Linked DNA regions of Homo sapiens. The protein of the gene in region 1 purifies or fractionates together with the protein of each later gene. This does not show direct contact. Each region holds a gene or a part of one and is shown on either strand. Other genes may lie near its edges.

Evidence for each region.
Region 2: the proteins of GTPBP4 (region 1) and NOP53 purify together in Homo sapiens (affinity purification with mass spectrometry; 2 studies listed by BioGRID and IntAct, with this or other methods). This does not show direct contact.
Region 3: the proteins of GTPBP4 (region 1) and RPF2 fractionate together in Homo sapiens (co-fractionation; one large-scale study listed by BioGRID). This does not show direct contact.
Region 4: the proteins of GTPBP4 (region 1) and STAU1 purify together in Homo sapiens (affinity purification with mass spectrometry; 2 studies listed by BioGRID). This does not show direct contact.
Region 5: the proteins of GTPBP4 (region 1) and POP1 purify together in Homo sapiens (affinity purification with mass spectrometry; 2 studies listed by BioGRID). This does not show direct contact.
Region 6: the proteins of GTPBP4 (region 1) and WDR36 fractionate together in Homo sapiens (co-fractionation; one large-scale study listed by BioGRID). This does not show direct contact.
Region 7: the proteins of GTPBP4 (region 1) and GNL2 purify together in Homo sapiens (affinity purification with mass spectrometry; 2 studies listed by BioGRID and IntAct, with this or other methods). This does not show direct contact.

Annotation. Positions count from the first base shown.
Region 1 is NC_000010.11:1,005,434-1,008,933, reverse strand, and holds part of GTPBP4 (GTP-binding protein 4), read right to left. Parts: intron 3,117-3,500; coding exon 3,027-3,116; intron 1,917-3,026; coding exon 1,806-1,916; intron 1-1,805. UniProt on the Homo sapiens protein: Involved in the biogenesis of the 60S ribosomal subunit. Acts as a TP53 repressor, preventing TP53 stabilization and cell cycle arrest.
Region 2 is NC_000019.10:47,752,046-47,755,545, reverse strand, and holds part of NOP53 (ribosome biogenesis protein NOP53), read right to left. Parts: intron 3,035-3,500; coding exon 2,939-3,034; intron 1,020-2,938; coding exon 915-1,019; intron 838-914; coding exon 655-837; intron 199-654; coding exon 23-198; intron 1-22. UniProt on the Homo sapiens protein: Nucleolar protein which is involved in the integration of the 5S RNP into the ribosomal large subunit during ribosome biogenesis. In ribosome biogenesis, may also play a role in rRNA transcription.
Region 3 is NC_000006.12:110,988,538-110,992,037, reverse strand, and holds part of RPF2 (ribosome production factor 2 homolog), read right to left. Parts: intron 3,011-3,500; coding exon 2,973-3,010; intron 292-2,972; coding exon 252-291; intron 1-251. UniProt on the Homo sapiens protein: Involved in ribosomal large subunit assembly. May regulate the localization of the 5S RNP/5S ribonucleoprotein particle to the nucleolus.
Region 4 is NC_000020.11:49,125,835-49,129,334, forward strand, and holds part of STAU1 (double-stranded RNA-binding protein Staufen homolog 1), read right to left. Parts: intron 1-3,500. UniProt on the Homo sapiens protein: Binds double-stranded RNA (regardless of the sequence) and tubulin.
Region 5 is NC_000008.11:98,137,793-98,141,292, forward strand, and holds part of POP1 (ribonucleases P/MRP protein subunit POP1), read left to right. Parts: intron 1-2,285; coding exon 2,286-2,397; intron 2,398-2,976; coding exon 2,977-3,096; intron 3,097-3,404; coding exon of another isoform or gene 3,405-3,412; exon of another isoform or gene 3,413-3,473; intron 3,474-3,500. UniProt on the Homo sapiens protein: Component of ribonuclease P, a ribonucleoprotein complex that generates mature tRNA molecules by cleaving their 5'-ends. Also a component of the MRP ribonuclease complex, which cleaves pre-rRNA sequences.
Region 6 is NC_000005.10:111,098,848-111,102,347, forward strand, and holds part of WDR36 (WD repeat-containing protein 36), read left to right. Parts: intron 1-1,741; coding exon 1,742-1,874; intron 1,875-3,497; coding exon 3,498-3,500. UniProt on the Homo sapiens protein: Part of the small subunit (SSU) processome, first precursor of the small eukaryotic ribosomal subunit.
Region 7 is NC_000001.11:37,589,438-37,592,937, forward strand, and holds part of GNL2 (nucleolar GTP-binding protein 2), read right to left. Parts: intron 3,370-3,500; coding exon 3,275-3,369; intron 1,409-3,274; coding exon 1,269-1,408; intron 1-1,268. UniProt on the Homo sapiens protein: GTPase that associates with pre-60S ribosomal subunits in the nucleolus and is required for their nuclear export and maturation.

The DNA.
Region 1 (3,500 bases):
TTATGTGAAATGCCTGCTGAATGAGAAACTTACAAAGCCGAAAAAGTAGAAACAAATTCCCTACGTGCAAGGGGAACAGAAAACCATACCCAGACCAATGAACAACCAACAGATTATTTTAGGGGAGAGGAGTGGGTTCATACCGAGACCAATTAACAACCAACAGATTATTTTAGGGGAGAGGAGTGGGTTCAGGGTCACTTTGAGCACAGAGACCAGGAGGACTCCACAAAGTGATTCCAAAGTTTATCCAGGAAAAACAGAAATCATGATTATCATGAAAAATTATGGAAGAAGAAAGTGGTAAGAAATAACACTGGATCAACAGATGAAAGAAATTTAGACATAAACTCAAGTGCATATAAGAATTCAATGGAAACATAAAATTTCCAATACTCAGGTCAGAAATGCCGACCACTTGAAACGGAGTGCAACCTCCACCCTCACAACATAACCAACTCAAGACACGGTGAAGACTATCCAAAAAAGCTAATTTTTAATGCTAGTATAAAAGATAATTTTTTTTTTTTGACAGAGTCTCACTCTTGTCACCCAGGCTGGAGTACAGTGGAGTGATCTCGGCTCACTGCAACCTCCACCTCCCAGGTTCAAACGATTCTCCCGCCTCAGCCTCCTGAATAGGTAGAATTATAGGTGCGCGCCCGACTAATTTTCGTAGTTTTAGCAGAGATGGGGTTTCACCATGATTGCCAGGCTGGTCTCAGACTCTTGACCTCAGGTGATCCACCCGCCTCGGCCTCCCAGAGTGCTGGGATTACAGACGTGAGCCACTGCACCCAGCAAGAAAAGATACTTTTAAAATGACTTTGGAATGAATGGTAAGCCTTTCTATGTACAATGCAAACCTGAACACCCAGAAAAAAAAATTAATATATGTTAATAGTTCAAAAATGTACAGCACATTTGAAGTTAAAAAGGCAAGTGACAAAAAGAGAAAAAAATTTGCAATGTATCTGACAAGAATCCAACCTTTGTAATACAAAAGTAACAAATCAGCGAGAAAAAGATAAACAGCCTAAAGAACTTTGAAAAGGCCAATAAGCAGACAAACATGCTCAACCGCACCCAGCATTACATAAACACACAACAATAAAATCATCTTTACACAAGACTGACAGTCAGTGCCCGACCACGCCGAGGACACAAGGAAAGACAGAGGGAAGGACACAGCCTCCAGCGTCAGTGCAGCACACACCAGGAAGGCGTCTGTGGGACAGGAACGTTGTCAACACCACATGGTGAAGTGCAGACACATTTGCAGTAAAACATGAAGACACAGCGTAACGATGTGTGCCCATTCACAATGGACAAAACAATGAAAATTTATTTTATTTATTTTTTATAGAGACAGGGTCCCACTATGTTGCCCAGGCTGGTCAAGAACTCCTGGGCTTAAGCAATCTTCCCACCTTGGCCTCCCAAAGTGCTGGGATTACAGGCGTGAGCTACTTCCCCCAGCCAAAAAAATGAAAATTTAAAGAATGAAACAGATTTCCATCTGTGTTTAAAGAACTTTTTAGAAACTAATCTTCTATATCAGAAACATTTCTGGAAGGATAAACTAACAGTGACCACGTCATGCAGTGGGAAACGGGTGCCATGTGGCGTTCTGCACTTTCTTCACCTTCTCGATCCTTTATGTAAGCAAGAAGGTGAAACTGAGGCCCACCCACAATATCCACCTGCGAGTGTGTGAAGCTGGATGGGAGGCTTCTGGAAAAGGCACGCAGACAGCACCTGCTGACAGTACTGTGAGCCCACGGCTGTCCCAGGGGCCGTCTTACCTTATCGTCCCTCCTGGTTGGGATAGCCAGGTGCAGTCTATTCAGCACCTCATTCACTTTATTTCCCTTCATTTTGGTTTCCACTCGATGAGCCAAAAGCCTATCGCAAGCCTAATAACGTAAAAAAGAAGGCACAGTCACAAACGCATCCTCCAGCAGCCTCCAGCTACAGGTTCCAGGAGGAGCCACAGATCAGAGCCACTGAGCCTTTTCCCTCAAGGTAACTAACACGTAGGGGGCCACATTCTCTGAGGCCCAGGTGGAAGCGGCCCTGAGGGAAGGTGCATCTCCAGTGCCTGGGCCTCTCTCCCACCACAGTGACCCTCTGCACAGACGGTGCCCTCCAACTGCCCTTCACGAACCGGAGGCAATGTTGCCCCTCAGGACTCTAACCGAGCAACAAATTCCTGAGTGCGACCATGGCATCAGGAGTGCCATCTTTTTAAATCCTGAGTGCGACCATGGCATCAGGAGTGCCATCTTTTTTTTTGAGATGGTATCTCGCTCTTGCTGCCCAGGCTGTAGTGCAGTGGCATGATCTCAGCTCACAGCAACCTCCGCCTCCCAGGTTCAAACGATTCTCCTGCCTCAGCCTCCCGAGTAGCTGGGATTACAAGCATGCGCTACCACGCCCGGCTAATTTTGTATTTTTAGGAGAGACGGAGTTTCACCACGTTGGCCAGGCTGGTCTCGAACTCCCGACCTTGGGTGATCTACCCGCCTCAGCCTCCCAAAGTGCTGGGATTACAGGCGTGAGCCACTGCGCCTGGCCAGAAATGTCCTTTTATTTGAGATAAAAACAACATGAAATACAAAGTAATTAGGACAGCATGTGAAATCCAGCAGCGGACTGCCTCCTGCAAAAGCTGTTCTGCTTTTCAGACTTTTCTCCCTTCTACTTCGAACAGGTTCCATAAAAATAATTTTCACTGTACTTGCTACCGAAATATTAAAAGGCCAGAGACAACAGCTGCTTTAGGGTAAAGTTGTTTGGGGTGAGAAGAGCAAAGCATCCCCTCACAACCCACTGTCCACGGGGGGCAAAGTGGGTCTTAGAAGGGTCTGTCTTCACGCCCCACTCTCGCACGCCACCCGCCTCGCTACTGCGAGGGCTCCAAGTGTTAACAATGTCTAGAAAGAAAACTATTTTCTCCCCACAACTGACTTGAATCAAACAAGAGACAGTAAAAAGACTAATACCTGACTTAAGGCAGCACTGACCTCTGTTTTAACTTTAATAACACCTTCCTCAGTCAGGGTGCTGGTCTCTATTACAGGGAATCCTTCAGACTGCAAATCTGTAAATATTTTCTGGGAATGCAAAGAAAAAACGAGAGATGTATTATTCATTTCCAGTTCCCTATGGAACAAACTGTACAGTTCTGCAAATGGAGGCTGCAAATGTGAACATCTGTGGTTGTTTCAAAGTCTTAAAAAACAGACATATCCTAAAAACAGTTATTTTCTTCATATTCTTCTATGATCAAGAAAACACAAATGACATCAAAAAGATGGCCGACTAGTAGCCCCTCACATCTGTCCCCCACAACAAAGGCAATCAGAATAACGAACAACTACATGTTAATAACTGAGGGGGAGCTCCAGAGGGCATCACAGGAGTAACAGGCACCCTGGGGAGCAGAAAAACGCAAGACGATGAAATACAGCCCAAAGAAAACACCAGGGGCCAGGCGC
Region 2 (3,500 bases), on another chromosome or scaffold:
GAACCCCCGGCCTGGTTCTCACTTGAGCCGCCCCAGCCTTCGGGGCTTGTCAGCCTCAGCCTCCCGCCGCGCCTGCCGCCGCCTCTGCCGCCGCGCCAGCTCCGCCAGCCTCAGGGCCACCTGGGCCTTGATCCCGCGCAGCCGGAACAGCTCCTGGTGCCGGAGCCGGGCGGCCCGCAACGCGGCCTGCTGTACCCGCTGTGGAGACGGGGGAGGGTCAGGGCTCAGGCCGGTGCTGCCCACACAGGGAGACCTTCTCTCTACACAGGGAGCCTTCCCTGCACAAACCTGCCTGTCCCCGGAGGCCCTTCCTAACCCCGTCACATCAGCGGCCCCTCCAGTGCCTTCCCAGCAGCTGTTTGCTGAAGCCCCTTTTGTCATCCATCTCCCCTGGTCTGCGGTGCAGAAACCTCCCCCCACCCCGCCCCTCAAACAGAAGCGCCAGGGACCCTGTCCCACCCCAGCCCGAGCCCTGCCTGGAAGAGGCTGGGAAATGAGTCTCAGCTGTGAGGATCCCAAACAGCCCAAACCACAGGCCACATGCGGGGCTTGGGGTGTGCAGGCTGCCCGCAGCACCCAGGGCAGCCCATGGTGGGAGGAAGGAAGGAAGGGGGCGAGGCATCAGAGGCAGGCCCCGCTGGCCCAGGCGCTCACCAGCCTGTGCACAGCCTTCTCCCGCCGCCGCTGCTGCTCCGTCTTCTTCTCTGTGGTGGCCAGGCGGGCGGGCGTGGGACAGACCTCGGCATCCCCAGCCTCCGGCCCCTCGCCCTGGCCTGGCTCCCCCTCACCATCCGACTCCTCCAGCAGCCCCTCGCACAGCTCCTGGAATGTGGACTCCTGGGGAGGCGGGGTGCAGTGTCAGGGGTGGGTAGGAGGCCCGGGGAGGGGAGGGAGTGGGCAGGTGCGGGGCTCACCTGGGTGGCGGCCTGCTCCGTGGCGGGCAGGGCCAGCTGCCGCTCCAGCTTCTCCGCCTCCTTCTGCCGCTGCAACTCCACCTCGTGGGCCGCTGAGAGCAGGGTCTGAGGGGCGGGAGTGAGGATGGGTCCCTGAACCCCTCCTGGGACACTGAGACTAGACCCTCTTACCTCCCATCTGTCCCTCATCCAGTGCCCGTGGATCCCGCCCCGGCCCAGGCTTTCCTCCCCACACCCCGTCTACCAGCACACCCACCCTGCACAGAGCCAGAGGGCACCTCAAACCCTCGCCCTCACACCTGCTCTGCACGTCTGTGAAGGCAGTCTGACCTGCACGCTTCACATTTTTTTTTTGAGATAGAGTTTCTGTCTTGTTGCCCAGACTGGAGTGCAATGGTGTGATCTCAGCTCACCACAACCCCCGCCTCCTGGGTTCAAGCGATTCTCCTGCCTCAGCCTCCCGAGTAGCTACTATTACAGGCATGTGCCACCATACCCGGCTAATTCTGTAACTTTAGTAGAGATGGGGTTTCTCCATGTTGGTCAGGCTGGTCTTGAACTCCTGACCTCAGGTGGTCCACCTACCTCGGCCTCCCAAAGTGCTGGGATTACAGGTGTGAGCCACCATGCCCGGCCCACAGTTTCATCTATGTGAATTGGTCAGGGTGGGCTGGTCCCTGAGACAGGAAGCCTGGCAGCCCAAGACCACACGAGACAGGGAATTGCGGGGGTGATGGCTGACATGTGTGAGGTTTCCTTTACGGACAGTGAAAATGTTCTAAAATTGACTGCGGGGATGGTTACACAATGGTCACTAAAAGCCACTGAATCACATACTCTAACTAGGCTGACCGTATGGTTAAGTGAATTTTATCTCTACGAAGTAGTTCTGTACAAATCTAAAAGTGAATGTCTGATCTCCACGCCCCCTCCCACATCTGGTCCAGGAACAGATGGCAGTGAGCGGCACCCTCACGCTTTCAACCATGAGCACACTGTTGCTTTTTTCCGCAGACACTTTTCTCTACCAGATGAGGAAGCTGCCTCTGTTCCTGGCTAGCTATCTCCTTCTTATGAATGCTGAAAACGATTCGGACAAGCGGTCCTGCATCTACCGCAAACATCTCAGCATCTCTCCAGTCACGTGACCCCATGAGAAGGGCTGTTCCTTGAGGGAGGGTTGTGCTTGTTTTTTGAGTCTCGCTCTGTTACACAGGCTGCAGTGCCGTGGTGCGATCATAGCTCACTGCAGCCTGGACCTCCTGGGCTCAAGCAATCCTCCCACCTCAGCCTCCCAAGCAGTTGGGACCACAGATGCGTGCTGCCATGCCCTGCTAATTTTCTGTATTTAGTAGAGACAGGGTTTCACCATGTTGGTCAGGCTGGTCTCCAACTCCTGACCTCCAATGATCTGCCCGCCTCAGCCTCCCAAAGTGCTGGGATTACAGGTGTGAGGCACCGCACCCGGCCAAGGGAGGGGTTTTTGTCCCCTTTGTCCACAGCATCTGTGCTCAACAGATGCCCGCTAAATGCACAGTGGCTCCAGCTAGACTTTCCCATCGCTGAGCTAGCCTCGCCCATATATAACTGTCACTTGGCTGCCAGTGTGCCACCGTGTCACCACAGCCTTTTTCATCTCTGCCCCACAGGCTTCCTGGAAGGCGCCACGGTCTCTCTCAACTCTGTGCCTTTGCAGTGCTGTTCCCACCACCTGGAAAACCCACTCCCCTCCTCCCACTGCAAACCCCTCCCTCAGCCTCTGCCTCGGCTCAGGCGACCCCTCCTCCCGGGAGCCCTTCCTGACCCCCCAGGCTGGGCCAGGTGCCCCGTCTGGGCTCCCAGCCCCAACCACTCTGCCCATCACTGTCTGGGAACAGGTCTCTTGCACTGGACCGTGAGCCCCGTTGCGGACAGGCCCAGGGCTGTCTGGGTCATTGGAGTTCCCAGCACAGGGAGGAAGCTAGTGAAGGCCTGACCAAGAGGCAGAGCCCACTGAGGAGGGAGGCCTGGACGGGGCAGTGTACCTGGTGGTCTTCAAAGGATGGATTGTAGGAAGCTCCGGCAGGCGCCACCTCCACGGCGGGTGCCTGGGACGGCTTGGTGTGCAGGCGTGCTGGCCGCTGTGGAGAAAAGGCCGAGGCAGGGTAAGGCCGTGCGTTGGGGCTGCGGGTGACCCAGGACACAGCCATGGGGCAGATGCTCCAGGCCTTGCCAGTGGTTGGGTGTGGGAAGAGCTCAAGGGGCATTCAGGTGACTCCAGAGCAAGACTCCATCTCAGAAAAAGGATAGCAGCCTATCCTCTGCTACCCACGAGGCTGAGCCCCGGAGATTGTAAGCACCTGGGCTCTAACACTTGGGGTCCAGCAGCTCAAGAAGGAGGCTGCAAATCCAAACTCAAACCCGTGACACTTCTGCCACTTGCCAGCACGGGCTCCACCTTCTCATGTGCTACCTCTTTACATTCTCCCCACCGACCCATGATCTAAGTACAATTTCATCTGTATTTTATTTTATTTTTTTTTTTGAGACAGAGTTTCGCTCTTGTTGCCCAGGCTGGAGTGCAGTGGCATGATCTCGGCTCACTGC
Region 3 (3,500 bases), on another chromosome or scaffold:
ACCGCGCCCGGCCAAGTTTTAAAAATTTTATCAATATATTTGCAGGCAATGAAAAACACATTTCCCAGCCATAGTGAAATGAAAGCTCTATAGATATTTTTTAAAGTATTTCCTCTCCATTTTACACAAAATTCCCTCACACAGGATGACTTCTAATGTTTAAAAAAATCACAAATTTGGAGTACAAATGAATTAGTCTGAATAATTACTACTTATATGCTTTCTTAAATCATAAAGATTATTATACTTACCAGTGATGTCTGATCCTCAAAAGGTCTTGTAATATTTTTCCTAAGAATATCAAAAAAGTGACAATTTTAATAATCTAAATAAGTATATACAATTAATATATTAAGGTAATTTTATATTCAGATGATAAAACAATTGAAAGGATATTCATTCATTCAAATATTTATTCAGTGCCTGTTATATGCCAGGCTACCATTCTAGGAGCTAGTGATACTATACTACTACATTAAACAAGATGCTTGCTTTCATGGAGTTTATAGGCTCGTGGAAAATAAGTAGTCCTCTGTACATATGGATTCTGCATCCTTCTGCATCCATGGATTGATTTGACCAACCACGGATTGACAGTATTCAATAGACAAAGAAAGTGTGTTAAAAAAAAAAAAAAAAGCAGGGGGCGCCGAGCACAGTGGCTTACAACAGTGAAATATGATCGTGCCACTGCACTCCAGCCTGGGTAACAGTGAGACCCCGTCTCTAAAAAAAAAGTTAAGAAATAAAAAGAAAAAGGAACAATAAAAAGCAGGATAAACCAGAAAATACAGCATTATAACTATTTACATAGCATTTACATTATATTAGATATTATAAGTAATCGAGAGATGATTTAAAGTATATGCAACTTACTTTTATGGGAAGCATTTTTTAAAAAAAGGATACAGGAGGAAGTGTGTGGGTTATATGCAAATACTAGGCCATTTTATGTAAGAGACGAGCATACCCAGATTTTAATAAGGGGAGGTTTCTGGAACCCATCGCCCACAGATACTGAGGGATGACTGTAGCTTATTCCAGGGCTGTGGTAAGGAAAAAGACAAGATGAACCCAGATAATTTTGTGATGTTAGAAAGTAAGGAAGTGCTCAAAAACAGGAGGCATGTTGAAAGGTCATAGGAACCAACGTAAAAGAGTTCCCAGCTGGGAGCAGTGGCTCACGCCTGTAATCCCAGCACTTTGAGAGGCTGAAGCTGGTGGATCACCTGAGGTCAGGAGTCTGAGACCAGCCTGGCCAACATGGTGAAACCCTGTCTCTACTAAAAATACAAAAATTAGCTGGGCACCTGTAATCCCAGCTACTCAGGAGGCTGAGGCAGGAGAATCGCTTGAACCCAGGAGCCAGAGGTTGTGGTGAGCTGAGGTCGCACCACTGCACTCCAGGCTGGGTGAAAGAGTGAGACTCCGTCTCATACTAAAAAAACAAACAAAAGAAAAGGTGGGGGGGGGGGGGGTTCCCAATTGCCAAACAGAACAATTTAAGCAACAAAATTAAGAACACTGGATTATAATCCAGAAGAATATATGAGGAAAGCACAACATTTTTGTAGTGTTCTTGACAAACATGCATAACCTCAATCAATTCATGAGAAAATTTAAACCCAAATTGAGGGATAATTTACAAAATAACTGACAAGTACTTGTCAAAAATGTCAAGGTCATCAAAGACAATGAAAGACTAAGGAACTGTCACAAATTGGAGAAGACTAAGGAGGCATGAAAACTAAATGCAACATGGGATCCTGAAGAGAAAAAGAGTATTAAAAGGAAAACTAGGGCCGGGCACGGTGGCTCACGCCTGTAATCCCAGCACTTTGGGAGGCCGAGGTGGGCAGGTCACCTGAGGTCGGGAGTTCGAGACCAGCCTGACCAACATGGAGAAATCCCGTCTCTACTAAAAATACAAAATTAGCCGGGCGTGGTGGCGCATGCCCGTAATCCCAGTTACTCGGGAGGTTGAGGCAAGAGAATTGCTTGAACCCAGGAGGCAGGTGTTGCAGTGACCTTAGATCATGCCACTGCACTCCAGCCTGGGCAACAAGAGTGAAACTCCGTCTTAAAAAAAAAAGAAAAGAAAGAAAAAAGAAACTGGGCCGGGCGGGGTGGCTCACGCCTGTAATCCCATCACTTCGGGAGGCCAAGGCGCGCAGATCACCTAAAGTCAGAAGTTTAAGACCAGCCTGGCCAACATGGTGAAACCCTGTCTCTATTAAAAATACAAAAATGAGCTGGGCATGGAGGTGCATGCCTGTAATCCCAACTCAGGAGGCTGAGGCAGGAGAATCACTTGAACCAGGGAGTCAGAGGTTGCAGCGAGGCGAGATCATGCCACTGCACTCCAGCCTGGCAACAAAGCTAGACTCCGTCTCAAAAAAAAAAAAAAAAACCACACAAAAATTAGCCAGGCGTGGTGGCACGTGCCTATAATCCTAGCTACATGGGAGGCCAAGGCAGAAGAATTGCTTGAACCCAGAGTTAGAGGTTGTAGTGAGCAGAGATCATGCCACTGCACTCCAGCCGGGCGACAACAGGACTCCGTCTCAAAAGAAGGAAAAAAGAAAAACTGGTGCTAATCAAATATGTCTGTCATTTGATTAACATGAGTGAATCGGTGTTAATTTATTAGTTTTGATCATTGCATTACGGTTATGCAAGATGTAACATTAGGGGAAGCCAGGTGAAGGGTATATGGGAATTCTGCATTATTTTTGCACTTTTCTGTAAATCTGTATTTCAAAATAAAATATATATGCTATGGTTACAACTATGCAAGGACATTCAATACAAATGAAAAAAACAGACCAAAAGAAAGAAATTAAAATATTAATAACTGTAAGGAATTTTAATATCTTTTTAAAAAGTTTTTGTTTTCCAAATCTTCCATAAAGTGGTTACTTTTATAATGAAACAAAATCATTTAAAATACAGTAAAAGAAATCATGACTTACTTTTTATATAGTACACCGTATGGTTTTTTCAGTGCATACTGTAAAACAAAATTTATAGCTTTCAAAACAAAACACATTCTGAAAAGCAGAAATAAAAATAAAGCATCATAACAGTCACTCTCCAAGATTGCTCTGGGGCCTCAATCTTATTCTGAGGGCTTCTGCCTGGCTCCCTTTTCATCACTTACAGTAACTTGAAATGTAAGCTTAATATTCTTGGACTAGACTTTCCTATTTAAAAGTTTCTATGCCCTGTCAATAGTCTATCCAACTTAAACAATTTCCTTCATTTCTTTAAACTCGACTTAGTCCAGTCTCTCTCTAGGGAAACAATTCCAGGTGCAGTGGCTCACGCCTGTAATCCCAACACTTTGGGAGGACAAGGCAGATCACTCAAGCCCAGGAGTTCGAGACCAGCCTGGGCAACATGGCAAAACCCTGTCTCTACAAAAAACTGCAAAAATTAGCCAGGCATAGTGGTGCATGCCTGCAGTCCCAGCTACTTGGGAGGCTAAGGCGGGAGGATCA
Region 4 (3,500 bases), on another chromosome or scaffold:
TCCGTCTCAAAAAGCAAGCAATGAAATTAGTTACCTACAACAGGTGTGAGGGATTAGGGTAGACAGACGGGATGAGACGGGAATGATAGTTTTGACTTCTGGAAGCATTTACTGTTTTACATATTAAAGAAATAAAACTAAGTCAACAAAGATGGGGAAAGAATCTAAAATTAAACATGAACAGAAAGTTAGCTGCATATTAAAGTGATTACAATCTCCAAATGGACCAAAGACCTACACAGAGGCGCTAACATGCACAACTCTCAGAAGCAAAAACAGGCGAGTCTTCATGACTTTGGGTTTGGCAATTGGTTTTTAAGATATGAAACTAAAAGCACAATCAACAAGAGGGAAAAAAAAAAGTCACACTTAATCAAACTTTAAAACTTTTGTGTATCATGGACATTATCAAGAAAGTGATTACAATAACACAGATAGAAAATCAGGCTGGGCAGGGTGGCTCATGCCTGTAATCCCAACGCTCTGGGAGGCCAGGGTGGGAGGATCACTTGAGCTCAGAAGTTCAAGACCAGCCTGGCCAATACAGCAAGACCTTGACTCTACAAAAATAAAAACAAAATTAGCCAGGTGTGGTAGTGTGCCCCTGTATGTAGTCCTAGCTATGTGGGAGGCTAAAACAGGAGGATCACTTAAGCCCAGGAGATCAAGGCTACAGGGAGCTATGATCACACAACTGCACCCCAGCCTGGGCAACAGAGCAAAACCTCGTCTCAAAAAGCAAAAAAAAAAAAACAAAAAAAAAACAAAAAAACTTAAAAATCTAACCGATATTAGCCAAGACACTCAAAAAGAAAAATAGAAGACTTACACTACCAGATTTTAAAACTTCCTATAAAGTCACAACAACTAGGATATGGTTTTGTGTAAGGATAAATAGATCAACAGAACAGCACGAAAAAGACCTGCACATATAAGGTCACTCGATTTTTGGCAAACACACCAAAACAAATTAAAAATCTCTTAAAAAAATAGTACCAGAGCAACTAACTAGGTATCTGCATGGAGCGGGGTGGGGGGAAGAAAAAAAAATCAAACCATGATCTCTAACTCATACCACAACAAAAATTAGACCTAGGATCACTTAAATGTGATCTAAACTAAAATTACAAAGACTTTATAACAGGAGAAAGCCTCAAGACTGTAAGGCTGGCAAAGAGTTGAACACAAAAGATATCCACCATAAAGAAAAAAGAAATTCCTCAAAATTAAAAACCACTGGCCGGGCGCGGTGGCTCACGCCTGTAATCCCAGCACTTTGGGAGGCCGAGGTGGGCAGATCACGAGGTCAGGAGTTCGAGATCAGCCTGGCCAACATAGTGAAACCCCGTCTCTACTAAAAATATAAAAAATTAGCTGGGCGTGGTGGCGGGCACCTGTAATCCCAGCTACTTAGGAGGCTGAGACAGGAGAATTGCTTGAACCCAGGAGACGGAGGTTGCAGTGAGCTGAGATGGCACCACTGCACTCCAGCCTGGACAACAAGAGCGAAACACCATCTCAAAAATAAATAAATGAATAAAATAAAAAATAAACTGCTCATCAAAAGACATTTAAAAAGTAAAAAAGGGGGCCAGGTGCAGTGGCTCACGCCTGTAATACCAACACTGTGGTAGGCCGAGGCGGGTGGATCACCTGAGGTCAGGAGTTTGAGACCAGCTTGGCCAACAGGGTGAAACCCTGTCTCTACTAAAAATACAAAAATTAGCTGAGTGTGGTGACACATGACTGTAATCCCAGTTACTTAAGAGGCTAACACAGGAGAAATGCTTGAACCCCAGAGGCGGAGGTTGCAGTGAGCTGAGATCGCGCCATTGCATTCCAGCCCGGATGACAGAGCAAGACTTTGTCTAAAAAACAAAAAAAACTAAAAAAGGGGCCAGGCACATTGGCTCACTCTTGTAATCCCAGCACTTTGAGAAGGCCAAGGCGGGTGGATGGCTTCAGTCCAGGAGTTTGAGACCAGCCTGGGCAACATGGCAAAACCCCGTCTCTACAAAAAAAATACAAAAATTGGCTGGGCTCGGTGGCTCACGCCTGTAATCCCAGCACTTTGGGAGGCCGAGGCAGGCGGATCACCTGAGGCCAGGAGTTTGAGACCAGCCTGACCAACATGGAGAAACCCCATCTCTACTAAAAATACAAAATTACCTGGGCGTGGTAGCGCATGCCCATAATCCCAGCTACTCGGGAGGCTGAGGCAGGAGAATCGCTTGAACCCAGGAGGCAGAGGTTGCGGTAAGCTGAGATCACGCCATTGCACTCCAGCCTGGGCAACAAGAGCGAAACTCTGTCTCAGAGGAAAAAAAAAAAATACAAAAATTAGCCCAGTGTGTGGTGGCGTGTGCCTGTAGCCCCAGCTACTTGGGAGGCTGAGACAGCAGGATCACTTGAGCTCAGGAGGTCGAGGTTGCAGTGAGGTGAGATCATGCCACTGCACTACAGCCCGGGTACCAAGTGAGTTCTTTTCTCTAAAATCAAATAAAATAAACTTGTTATTTCAAAATATACATATTTCCTAGCTCTATCTCCTAACCGAGAGCCATGGCTCTCCAGCAGGAACAAGCATGCTAGCACCCTGTCCTGTCTCTACACACCACTCCCAATTAGAAGGAACCGGATCTTCTTGGAGGAATGGCCAAGACCATTTCTATTAGAAATTTATGTTTCCACTGGGGCTAAAGCTAGAGCAGGGGAAGTTCAAAGTGAGGCTAAAACATTTTGTTGTATCAGAAAGCATGGAAGTTCTCAAAATGTGAAGAGGGGAGGTGCAAAGGTTATTTAATAAAGGACTGTCTCAGCCAGGCATGGTGGCTCAAGCCTGTAATCCCAGCCTGGGCGACAAGAGCAAAACTCTGTCTCAAAAAATAAAGGACTGTCTCTTCAACAAACAGTGCAGGCACAATTAGACATCCAAATCCAAAAAAAAAAAAAAAAAAAAGACAAAAACATCCCTTATGTCACAGTATATATGAAAACTAACTCGAAATGAATTATAAACCTAAATGTAAGAGCTAAAACTAAAATTTCTAAGGAAAATGACTTTAGGTTAGCCAAATGTATCTCAGCATACACAAAAATTATTAACTATAAAAAATTTAACAAACTACACCTCACCAAAATTCAATACTTCTGCTTTTTGAAAGTCACTTAAAATCAAACGACAAGCCACAGACTTAAGAGAAAATATCTGCAAAATACTTATCTGAGAAAAAACTTGAATTCAGAATATATATAGAACCTCCAAAACTCAATAATAAAAAGACACTCAAAAAAACTGGCAAGATATAAACCTATATTTCATCAAAGAAAATAGTAAAATAAAAACACGAAAAGAAGCTCAGTATTGCTAGTCTTCATGGAGATATATAAATTAAAACCACAACAAGATACTACTGACTACCTGCTAGAATGACTTTAAAAAAAAATTTTTTTTTTTTTTTTTTTTTTTTTGAGACGGAGTCTCACTCTGTCACCCAGGG
Region 5 (3,500 bases), on another chromosome or scaffold:
TTTAATTAACTAAAAATTAAATTTGAGTAGCTCTATTGGCAAGTGGCTAGCATAGAGACTAGATTAGGAATCTGCACCCTGGGTTCAGATCCTGTTCGTTTTCTGGTCTTAGTGCAATTAACTTTTCAATGCCTGTGCCTCTCACTGACTTGACGTGGTCAAATACGATGATAGAGCTGAACAGATTCTGAGTTTTTAGAAGAAAGATGCTTTAAAATACAAAAGCTACTTTTCTCCATCTTCACTGCTTCTGCTGTACTCTCAACCAGTGTTGTCTCTTGCCTGAACAATTGGGGGATCAGGAAAGGATTCTAGAGGGAACCTTAAGTTTCCTCCATCCTTCCTCCTTTTCAGCCCATTCTCCACACAAGAGGCAGAGTGATTTTTTGATAATTTATTCCCTCTTGTTGCTTCCTGATGAAAAGTTTTTGAATAGCTTCTCATTGTAATTAAGATAAAATCCAAAGTGCTCAATGTGACCCGTGTAATCTTGTGCCTTCTTGCCTCTGAGGCCTCATTTCTCCTCACCCTTCTACACTTCAGCCACCCTGACCTTCTTTCAGGTTCTGGAATGTCAGTTCTTGTCTCCCTTAGAGCCTTTGCACCTGTTTTTTCCTTCCAACTACTGAGCATTCTGCCTCCACCACTCTTTACTTTGCTGAACCTTCCTCATTCTTCAGATTTCAGTCTCTAGCATTTCCCTCTAGCATCCTTTCCTGATCCCCCAAGTTAAACTAGATCCCTCCTGTTGTTTTCAGAGAGAGCATCTTGCAAATTCCCTCAATTTATTTATATAGATTTGTGTATTTATGTAATGTCCATGTCTCTCATGAGACTGTGAGCTTCATAAGGGTGAGGATAGAGTTGGTCCTGTTTTTCACTCTCTCCCCAGTGCTTAGCACAATGTCTGGCACAGAGAGGGTGCCCCGTAGTAGCTAATAAGTTGTGGAGCAAAGATTTGAACCAATGAAGTTTGGTTCCAGAGCCTGTACTGTAAACCACTAAGCTGTGCTACCTGAGTTTCTGTGAGTAAATGGTACCTTTGTTATGATTGCTTTTTTTTTTTTTTTTTTTGTTTGAGACAGAGCCTCACTCTGTCACCCAGGCTGGAGTGCAGTGGCACAATCTCAGCTCACTGCAACCTCCACCTCTCAGGTTCAAGCAATTCTCATACCTCAGCCTCCCGAGTAGCTGGAATTACAGGTGCCAGCCAACACACCCGGCTAATATTTTTTGTATTTTTAGTAGCGGTTTCACTATGTTGGCCAGGCTGGTCTCGAACTCCTGGCCTCAAGTGACCCGCCTGCCTCGGCCTACCAAAATGCTGGCATTACAGGCATGAGCCACTGCACCCGGCCATGATTGCTTCTTTAGGATCCGTAAGTGCACATCCTACTTCAGTGAACTTCAGCATGAGTTGTGGCTATAGATTCCCTTCTTGCCATGCATGTGATACTTGAAGGACTTTTTGAAATCTTCCTCAATTCCTAGTTCCATGTGGAAAAAATATACATTTCTAGGAATAATGTAGTAGTAGTATATCTTTTATCTGGAAAGTTCTTCAAAAGGTACTGGTTTGATTTTCCTTTGGTGAGGAACATTTTATTGCTTACATTGGAGATGATGAAGTTAGCTCTAGTGGAAGAGGACCAGGCGTGTGGCTCACACCTGAAATCCCAGCTCTTTGGGAGGCTGAGGTGGGTTGATTGCTTCAGCCCAGGAATTCAAGACCAGCCTGGGCACCATAGTGAGACCATATATCTACAAAAAATAAGTTAAAAAAAATTAGCTGGGCATGGTGGCATGTGACTGTGGTTCCATCTCCCAGCCACTTGAAAGGCTGAAGTGGGAGGATCACTTGAGCCTGGGAGATTGAGGCTGCAGTGAGCCATGACAGGCCACTGCACTCCAGCCTCAGTGACAGTGAGACTGTGTCAAGAAAAAAAAGAGAGAGGAGCGAGGCCTCCTTTGTTGGTACTGCGCTCTGGAGAGACTTTGAGTGTGAAGTATCTTAGTGAGTTAGTCTATGAAAACCATAGATGATTTTCTTCATATGTGAAATCTTGAGAGAAGTGTAATACTATATCCTTGCTGCTAATTCAAAGGGTAGTTAGTCTGGTATTAATTACTATGTTAAGTATAGTGGCAACTTCCCTGGTTCATCCCATAACACATACATTTCCACACATAGAAGAAGAAAGAGTGGGGGCTGATATCACAACCATGACAAAATTATGAAGGTGGATTCATTGTTCGTCCAGTGAATAGTAGTTGTTATTTTTCAGGTGGGAGAGGACACAGAGGAGACACCTCACCGCTGGTGGATAGAAACCTGTAAGAAACCTGACAGCGTTTCCCTTCATTGCAGACAAGAAGCCATTTTCGAGTTGTTGGGAGGTATACAAAGGGAAGACTGGGTTGTGTTGGGGAGGGAAGGGGGCCAAAAGAGCCTTTTGCAGTTGGGCCTCCAACATGTAGTATTGCTTTTTAACCTGCTGCTATTGTGACACAGCAAGAGAACCAAGTAAGAGAGGGACTGAACTCAGTGAATAAACACTATATTCATGCCTGGTTATGAAACAACAAACAAATGGTATGTTCATATTCTAAGTAACTGGCATTCTGATAGTGGAGATAAATGCATACACCAGGTACTGACCTAAACTCTATGCTTACCTGCACACAACTGCATTTTTGCTCATAGCTGCTGTAGTTATCACTGATAGAAGCATATGTGTTCATTTCATAAAAGAACCTTTTTTTATGTTGGCCTCATGTTTTTTGCAAGAAACCTCATTCTTTATGAATGTTAACTTATTCTCTAAAAGTATCAATGGGAAGAGAGGGAATACATGTTTTTAAGTAATTAGTCCAAGAAAAACGTTTCATTAGGAAATCTGAAAGATTTAAAAATACAAGCAAATACAGATGTATTATGAATGACTTTCTGTAAACTTCTTTTTGTTGTTGTTAAAGGAATAACATCACCAGCAGAAATTCCGGCAGGTACTATTCTGGGACTGACAGTTGGGGATCCTCGAATAAATTTGCCCCAAAAGAAGTCCAAAGCTTTGCCCAATCCAGAAAAATGCCAAGGTAAAGTTCCAAAAACACCCCAGGTTTTCCTTACTATTTCGAGCAGTCCAGTCTTATTAGAAGAAGAGTTCTTTCTCTGACACCTCTCCAGTAACTTCATCTGTAAAAAATTAGGGCAGTCTCCTTACCTGCCCACTTTACAAGCTGATTATGATCTAAGGAAATGGTAGGTGTGGAAGTGTCTTTTAGCAGTAAAACACGTAGCCTGATACTTATGTTCATTTTATTTTCCGAGTTCTCTTTTTTTAGTATCTAGTAAAACCTGTCTCTCTGCAAACTACGTTCTCTGAAAATGTCTGGCGTTTCAGAATTTTAATTGTGAGGAAGGGATCTGCACCCGAAGCTGGTCTTGTGCTCAGTGGAAGCCTCTGTCTGACCATACAGATGATCCAGGTTCGAATCCT
Region 6 (3,500 bases), on another chromosome or scaffold:
TAACTCATTTATTTGCTTTATCTTAGGGTAGTATGTGTTTAATTAAAATTTAAAATCTATGTAAACATCTATGCCAGAGATTTTGCCTGTAAATAGTAAGAAATTAAAAAAATCAAAAATCTTTAACGTGTAAGAAAAAAAGTTCTAAGTAAGAAAGAGATAAACAACTTTAGCAAGTTAACTACTTATAAACTGTTTAATGTGCTTACCTCAACTAATGTATTTTCCATTGCAGTTCTCCAACTTTAATGATTTGTTGTATTGTTTTCCCTGTGGAGTGAATATTGATGTATTTTCATACCTGAGTAATTCTTGGTTTGTATTTTCACCTTTTAGTAAAGGAGACTGTAATAGTAAACTTGATCTTGTAATCTGAAGGAAAATATACATCCATTTCCTAGGGATATGAGTCAGTTTCTTTCAACTGTGATAGCTTAGACAGTGGCTATGTTTATGGGATTATGTATCTTTAAACATGAAGAATTTATCCCTAGGATATCTACACCTTTCCTCAATAAAATACTGGGTTCATCATGAATTGAATCTTTTAAGTTCTTTAATCTGGTTACATTTTTAGCTTATATTGCCTCTTGGTTTTTTTTTGTTTTTTTTTTTGTTTTTTTTTTTTTTTTTTTTTCAGTAAATATCCTGAAGATTGCATTTCTGGGAATTATTCCAGGTTCTTGTTTCAGATTAGTAACCCTTTTCTTGTTTTGTTTTTGCTCAAGTAGAGGGAGGGAACAGAATTCCAAAAGTATTCCCTGTGCAGATAGAAGTTAAAAGGGCTTTTATTAGGTTACAGGATCTGGTTCTTACATTCCAGCAGACTCTCTTGAACCAGTATATTCAGGGAGCCATTTGTAGTGACTGACGAATAAAGGCAAGGATCTCTTAAAATAGCATTCAAAGTAAAGTTTATATAATTTTCACCTATACCTGTACATCCTAAACTGTGGTACCCATACCCTGGGATTGTACAGTAGTGTGCCAGATAGTATGTGAACCTAAAGATTAAGTGAAATGTACCTTCTTTGATACACAAATTTACTGGAAAATAGAGTGGAACATTGTTTTAATCATGGAGGAACTGTAAAGTGAAAAGCAGAATTCAAACATAGAAATTTTGAATGTAACCAAAGATTTCAGAGAATTTTTTTATCTTGGAGCAAGTGACCACTGGTGATGCCACCCCCCACTCCACAGGGTTATACGTTTTTTTTTTCTCCTTTATTAGAGATTATTTTGTGGAAATGTGTGAGAAGTACTCTTATTTCACTGAGGTGTGTCTTTTATTTTTGGCATTTTTTGAGTGGCCCATCAAACTTTCCAGATAATTGGCTCTTCGTTCCCTGAAAGAGCTAAGTATAAGCACTTCACTTGGAATATTCACTCCTGTCTGTTGATCAAATTACAGAAACATGAATGCTAATCCTTAGGATCTTTTTTTTTTAACTTTATTATCCTTTTCTGTAAAGTAATTCAAAAGTGAATGAAACTTTTAATAGTATTTTTATTAGAAGTTACAGAAAATTTTTGACAGTCTAAATTAAATTACATTTACAAGTTGCCTCTCATTTATTTTATTTCTCAAGGAATGTTTATAGATTAGTATCTAAGTCTGTGGTTTATTTTAACATATAAATCTTTGATGTGATAGACTTACTTTAAGTGATAAATATATGGTTACATAAAACATTTTAAACTATTTTATAAAAAATATTTATAACTTTCACTTTTGTAGAAGAATACCTGCAGTTGACTTTTGATAAATCAGTATTTAAAATTTCTGCAATTTTGCATCCAAGTACCTACTTGAATAAAATACTTCTGGGCAGTGAACAAGGAAGCCTGCAGTTGTGGAATGTAAAATCCAAGTAAGTATTTTAGTTAGAAAATAATATAGCTGTCACCTTATCCTCATCTACTACTTCCTAATGTATACTTAAGTCTCATTTCTCCCTGCCCTTGTATATTTATTTGGAGGGTTGTCTATAAATAACAGTTGGTCCCCTGTATCAGAGGAGTCAATTAACCTGGGATCAAAAATATTCAAGGAAAAATAAATAAATAATAATACAACAATAAAACATCACATTTTAAAGTAGTACAGTATAACAGCTATTTACATAGTATTTACATTATATTAGGTCTTATAAGTAAGCTAGAGATTATTTAAAGTATATGCATAAATGTGTGAAAGTTATATGCAAATACCACACCATTTTATGTAAGGGACTTGAGCATCTGTGAATTTTGGTATCAGCAGAGAAGTTGGGGAAGTCCTGGAACCAATCCCCCACAGGTAGTGAGATATAACTATATGTTTGCTTTTGGAGTTGTTGCTGGTGGCATCACATATGTGAAAGGTGGCATGTGATCCTGACACATGTTAGACAGCTTCATAAATGCTCACTGAAAAGTATGTACTAATGACCTAATAACTGTAAAGAATTGCTATAGAGAAGGCTCTAATAAAGGTCTATGAGATCCATCAGAAAATAATAATAATGAGATTATTACTAGGGAGCTTCTGATTTTCCATACATGAAGATTTTCTATACATGAAGAAGGTAAAAGATGGAAAGGCAAATCAATAATTTAGTGCTAGCATTTAGAAATGATTTTTAGGGTTAAAAGTACTTCCATAATCTCCCATAGATATGGCAAATATCTAATATTGATGTAGCTAGAGGGCTGGATACATGATTTTGAATACTTCTATCCATTATGTAAACATTTATCAGTAGAAAAAGGTGGCAGCTCACACTTCTTTGTATAGCATTTTAAAAAGCAAACAAAAATATTTGACCATCCAAATTGTTTTTTTCCAAAGTCCTTTTAAATTCAAAAGGGAAAATAAGATTATTAAAGGTTTGATGTTTTAAATCAGTGTTTCATTACAATTTAACAAATACCATTGACTGCCTACTTTGTGCTAGGTTCAGCAATAGTGACTGAAATACTGTCTTTGCCCATTTACAGAATTTAATACATGATTTAATATTTTAATGATAATTATAATGATTTCAGATACCTCTGTTTGCTCCATGGATGTGTTATTTATCATTCATGACTTGCTTCTGAAATTGAGAGCAGCATTACTGTTGTCATATAACAGTCATATAACATGCAAATAATATTTTTATTAAAATATAAGTTATTCCCTTTCATGATGTTTCTATAAAGATACTGCAGTCCTAAATTTTTTTTACTGTAGCCTGTAATATAACATGATTTTTACACACGTATTTTTTTTTCCACTTAGGACATTTAATTTCTTAATGAGGTGGCATAGCATAGTAGTTAGTTTGAGACCTAGAATTTGTCTGGACAATATTACTAACCTTGTGACATTAGCTTAATCATCAGAATAGTGTGTGGAAGAGTAAGAACTTAATAAATATCACCTATTATTATTTCACTTTTTAATGTGTAGCTGATATTGTTTTCCTCCAAAAAAAAAAAAATACAGCTTTCAACTATTTTTCTTCTTGTAGTAA
Region 7 (3,500 bases), on another chromosome or scaffold:
GGGACTACAGGTGCCCGCCACCACGCCCGGCTAATTTTTTTTTGTATTTTTAGTAGAGACGGGATTTCACGTGTTAGCCAGGATGGTCTCAATCTCCTGACCTTGTGATCCACCCGCCTTGGCTTCCCAAAGTGCTGGGATTCAGGCGTGAGCCACCGCGCCCAGCCTGAACTATTTAACCCACGTATGCATGTCAATGTTTTTCTCCCCTCCTCATACTGGAACTGAAGCTTACGTACTGGCTACATTTCTGGGAATTTATTATTCAATGCAAGTAAAAATAAGCAGACAAACAACAGATTCTTTCTTTGTTCTGTGTGAAACTCATTCCACTCAACCCAGATTGAATCCTTACTGCACTTCAAATTTTAGCAATTGACAACCAATGTGACCAGCACCCCTTCCTTCAGCTGAGAAAAAATCTCAAGGATCTCACAAAAGCTGAACGTACGCAACACCAAAGTTCTACCAACTCAATCCTAATTCTACGCTGTCCCAAAGTTTGATGGAATTACCACTTAAAACAAGTTTGCCTACCAAAATAAATAATATTACTAATAGCTGTTATCAATTTAGCTCTTATTAGGTGGTGTGCTATGTGCTCACTATGGGCCAAGTGCTTTACAGATGCTTCATCTGTAGCCAATAACCCAAGGAGGTCGGTTATCTATACTTTCTGTTTTTTTTAGACGGAGTTTCGCTCCTGTTGCCCAGGCTGGAGTGCAATGGCACGATCTTGGCTCACTGCAATCTCTGCCTCCCAGGTTCAAGCGATTCTCCTGCCTCAGCCTCTCCTGAGTAGCTGAGATTACAGGTATGCACCACCACGCCTGGCTAATTTTGTATTTTTAGTAGAGACAGGGTTTCTTCTTGTTGGTCAGGTTGGTCTCAAACTCCTGACCTCAGGTGATCCGCCTGCCTGAGCCTCCCAAGTGCTGGGATTACAGGCGTGAGCCACTGTGTCCGACCTATCTATACTTTCAAGGCAAAGAAGTTAAAGTTCATGGAGAAACCCAACTAAGGGCACAGGAAGGGATAGAGCAAGGATTAAAATTCAGGTCTCAACTCCAAAACCTGTGCTTTGATCCACTACACTACTGCACCTCATACTAAACATGAAAAGGTGAAAAGAGAGGTCTTAGAAAGTTCATCATTGCTACATTAAAGTCACTATTTTCTAAGGAAAAACAAAAGACAAATATGTTAGAGAGGGATCTGCATGGAGTTTGCCCAGGAAATTCCATCACCAGGGATATCCTACATCTTACATGAGGCCGGATTCGATCATGGAGAAGAGACATTGGTAACTTGCTTTGCTTCATGACAACTTTGTATGGATCCTTCATAACTGTATCCATTTCCTCTTGAAATTTTTGTAATGATGACTGCTTAATCACACGTGTGTTTCCTGTTTTACAAATAAAGAATGTTGCCACTTAGTTAATATTTGCGCATCCATCTTCCACTGACACGGTGAAAGGCAAGATTTTAAATTACCCTCACTTACCCAAGCACCTGATCCATCCATCCCTTGGAGCTGTTTTCAAACTTAAAAGAGGAAAAAACCAAAAAACTGCCTCTCCCGCACTTGCACACTATGAACTATTCCACAAATCCAGACCCACAAAGGGTTTCAATAGTTTTCCAAGTCCAGTTTCCTAACTAAATGAAACTGAGAAATAAATAGCGTGGAATGGAACTGAGATCTGTCAAATGTCCTACTACCTGCTAGATCTAGCAGAGAAACCTGGAGCCAATCACAGCTGATCAGTCAGTATAGACAGAGAATCTTGAAACACTGAAATTTGAGTCATAGTTAGCCACTTTTAGGGTTATGAGGATTCAAAGGGACTATTAACCAATGAGTCCATGCAAGGGAACAAGATAGAGCCCTGCACCACCACCTGGAAAACATCTTGTGAGGGAGACCCTGAAAAGCATTCAATTAAACAGCATGCTGCGGCATAAATGCAAAACAGCAAGGTGGTAATGACGGTAGCAAGTAATGCTTATATTATACTCACTATTTGCTAGGCGCTATTCTAAGCACTTTATATATATTTACTCTTTTTTTTTTTTTTTTTTTGAGATGGAGTCTCACTCTGTCACCCAGGCTGGAGTGCAGTGGCACAATCTCAGCTCACTGCAACCTCTGCCTCCTGGGCTCAAGGGATTCTCCTGCCCCAGCCTCCCAAGTAGCTGGGATTACAGGTGCCCACCACAACACCTGGCTAATTTTTGTATATTTAGTAGAGATGGGGGTTTCACTGTGTTGGCCAGGCTGGTCTCGAATGCCTGACCTCAAGTGATTCACCAGCCTTGGCCTCCCAAAGTGCTGGGATTACAGGCGTGAGCCACTGCGCCCTGCCTGTATTTACTCATTTGATTACCATGACAGTCTTATGAGATAGGTTTCATCTTATTCTCATGTTAGGGATGAGAAAACTGATGAACAGACAGACTTAATAACTTGCCCACTGGCACATAAATGACAGAACTAGAATTCAAACCCAGGCAGTCTAATCGAGTCACAGTACCCAGCAGCCATGCTAAATGCTTCTCTGCAGAGTTTTGACACCTTTCTGTGTTGCAGTTCTTAGGAAGTATCCCACTGAAAGTATAAGAGACTCAAAGATAGCTGCCACCTGCCCCCAAGGACAGAGGTCAAACACCAAGCAAACACTGGGGTCTGATCATCTAAAGTGCCCATACATTTACCAGTGGCTAAGGGCAAAGTTAAGAGCCCAGACTGAAATGAGACAGGGAGTTTTCCAAGGAAGAAGCTGTGATCACCCTGAGACTGAAGATACTCTATTCACTGTTGGACAGTTCAACAGTGAGACCCTTTAATTGTCACCCAAGTTCAAATAAAAACCCCATTAAGAAGTATTTCAGAGGAACTTCGGGCTAATGCACTTACCCTGAAGGATATATGCACAAAACCTACAAGGCCACCTCTCCAACAGTATCTCTTTAGGAAAGCAGAAAAGATTAAGATGAGCATTCTAAGGTCTGTGAATGCTAGTCATTAAGGATGGTCTTATCTGCTTAAGAGGGTTCAATTACAATTACTAATGGTGAGCGCTCTTCAAAAAGAAGTTATTTATTAAATTGACCACCACTACTTTTCCCAGTAATTCTTCTTATCCCTTTCTCAGATAATCCTTGCCGGTTTCACTCACCAAAAACTCCTGCTGTTTAGACATTTAAACATCCTAGCCGTTTCCACTCAGCATATATTTTGTAGAGCAAAGTAACAGGGGATAATACTCACCAAACCATTTAATATTTGGCTCTACTCTTGCCACTGTGCCAGAAGCCACCGTTGATTGATATTGCAGGGGTTTAATTATTTTACCACGACTGTTCCTAAATTGAGGAAAGAACAGATATTGGTTGACAACAGAAAAATGGCAACAGCGAAGTTTGATTTACAGAATATATTTTCCATCAAAAGGACTTCTTACTTTGGTTTTAAATGATCATGAAATACCAATTCC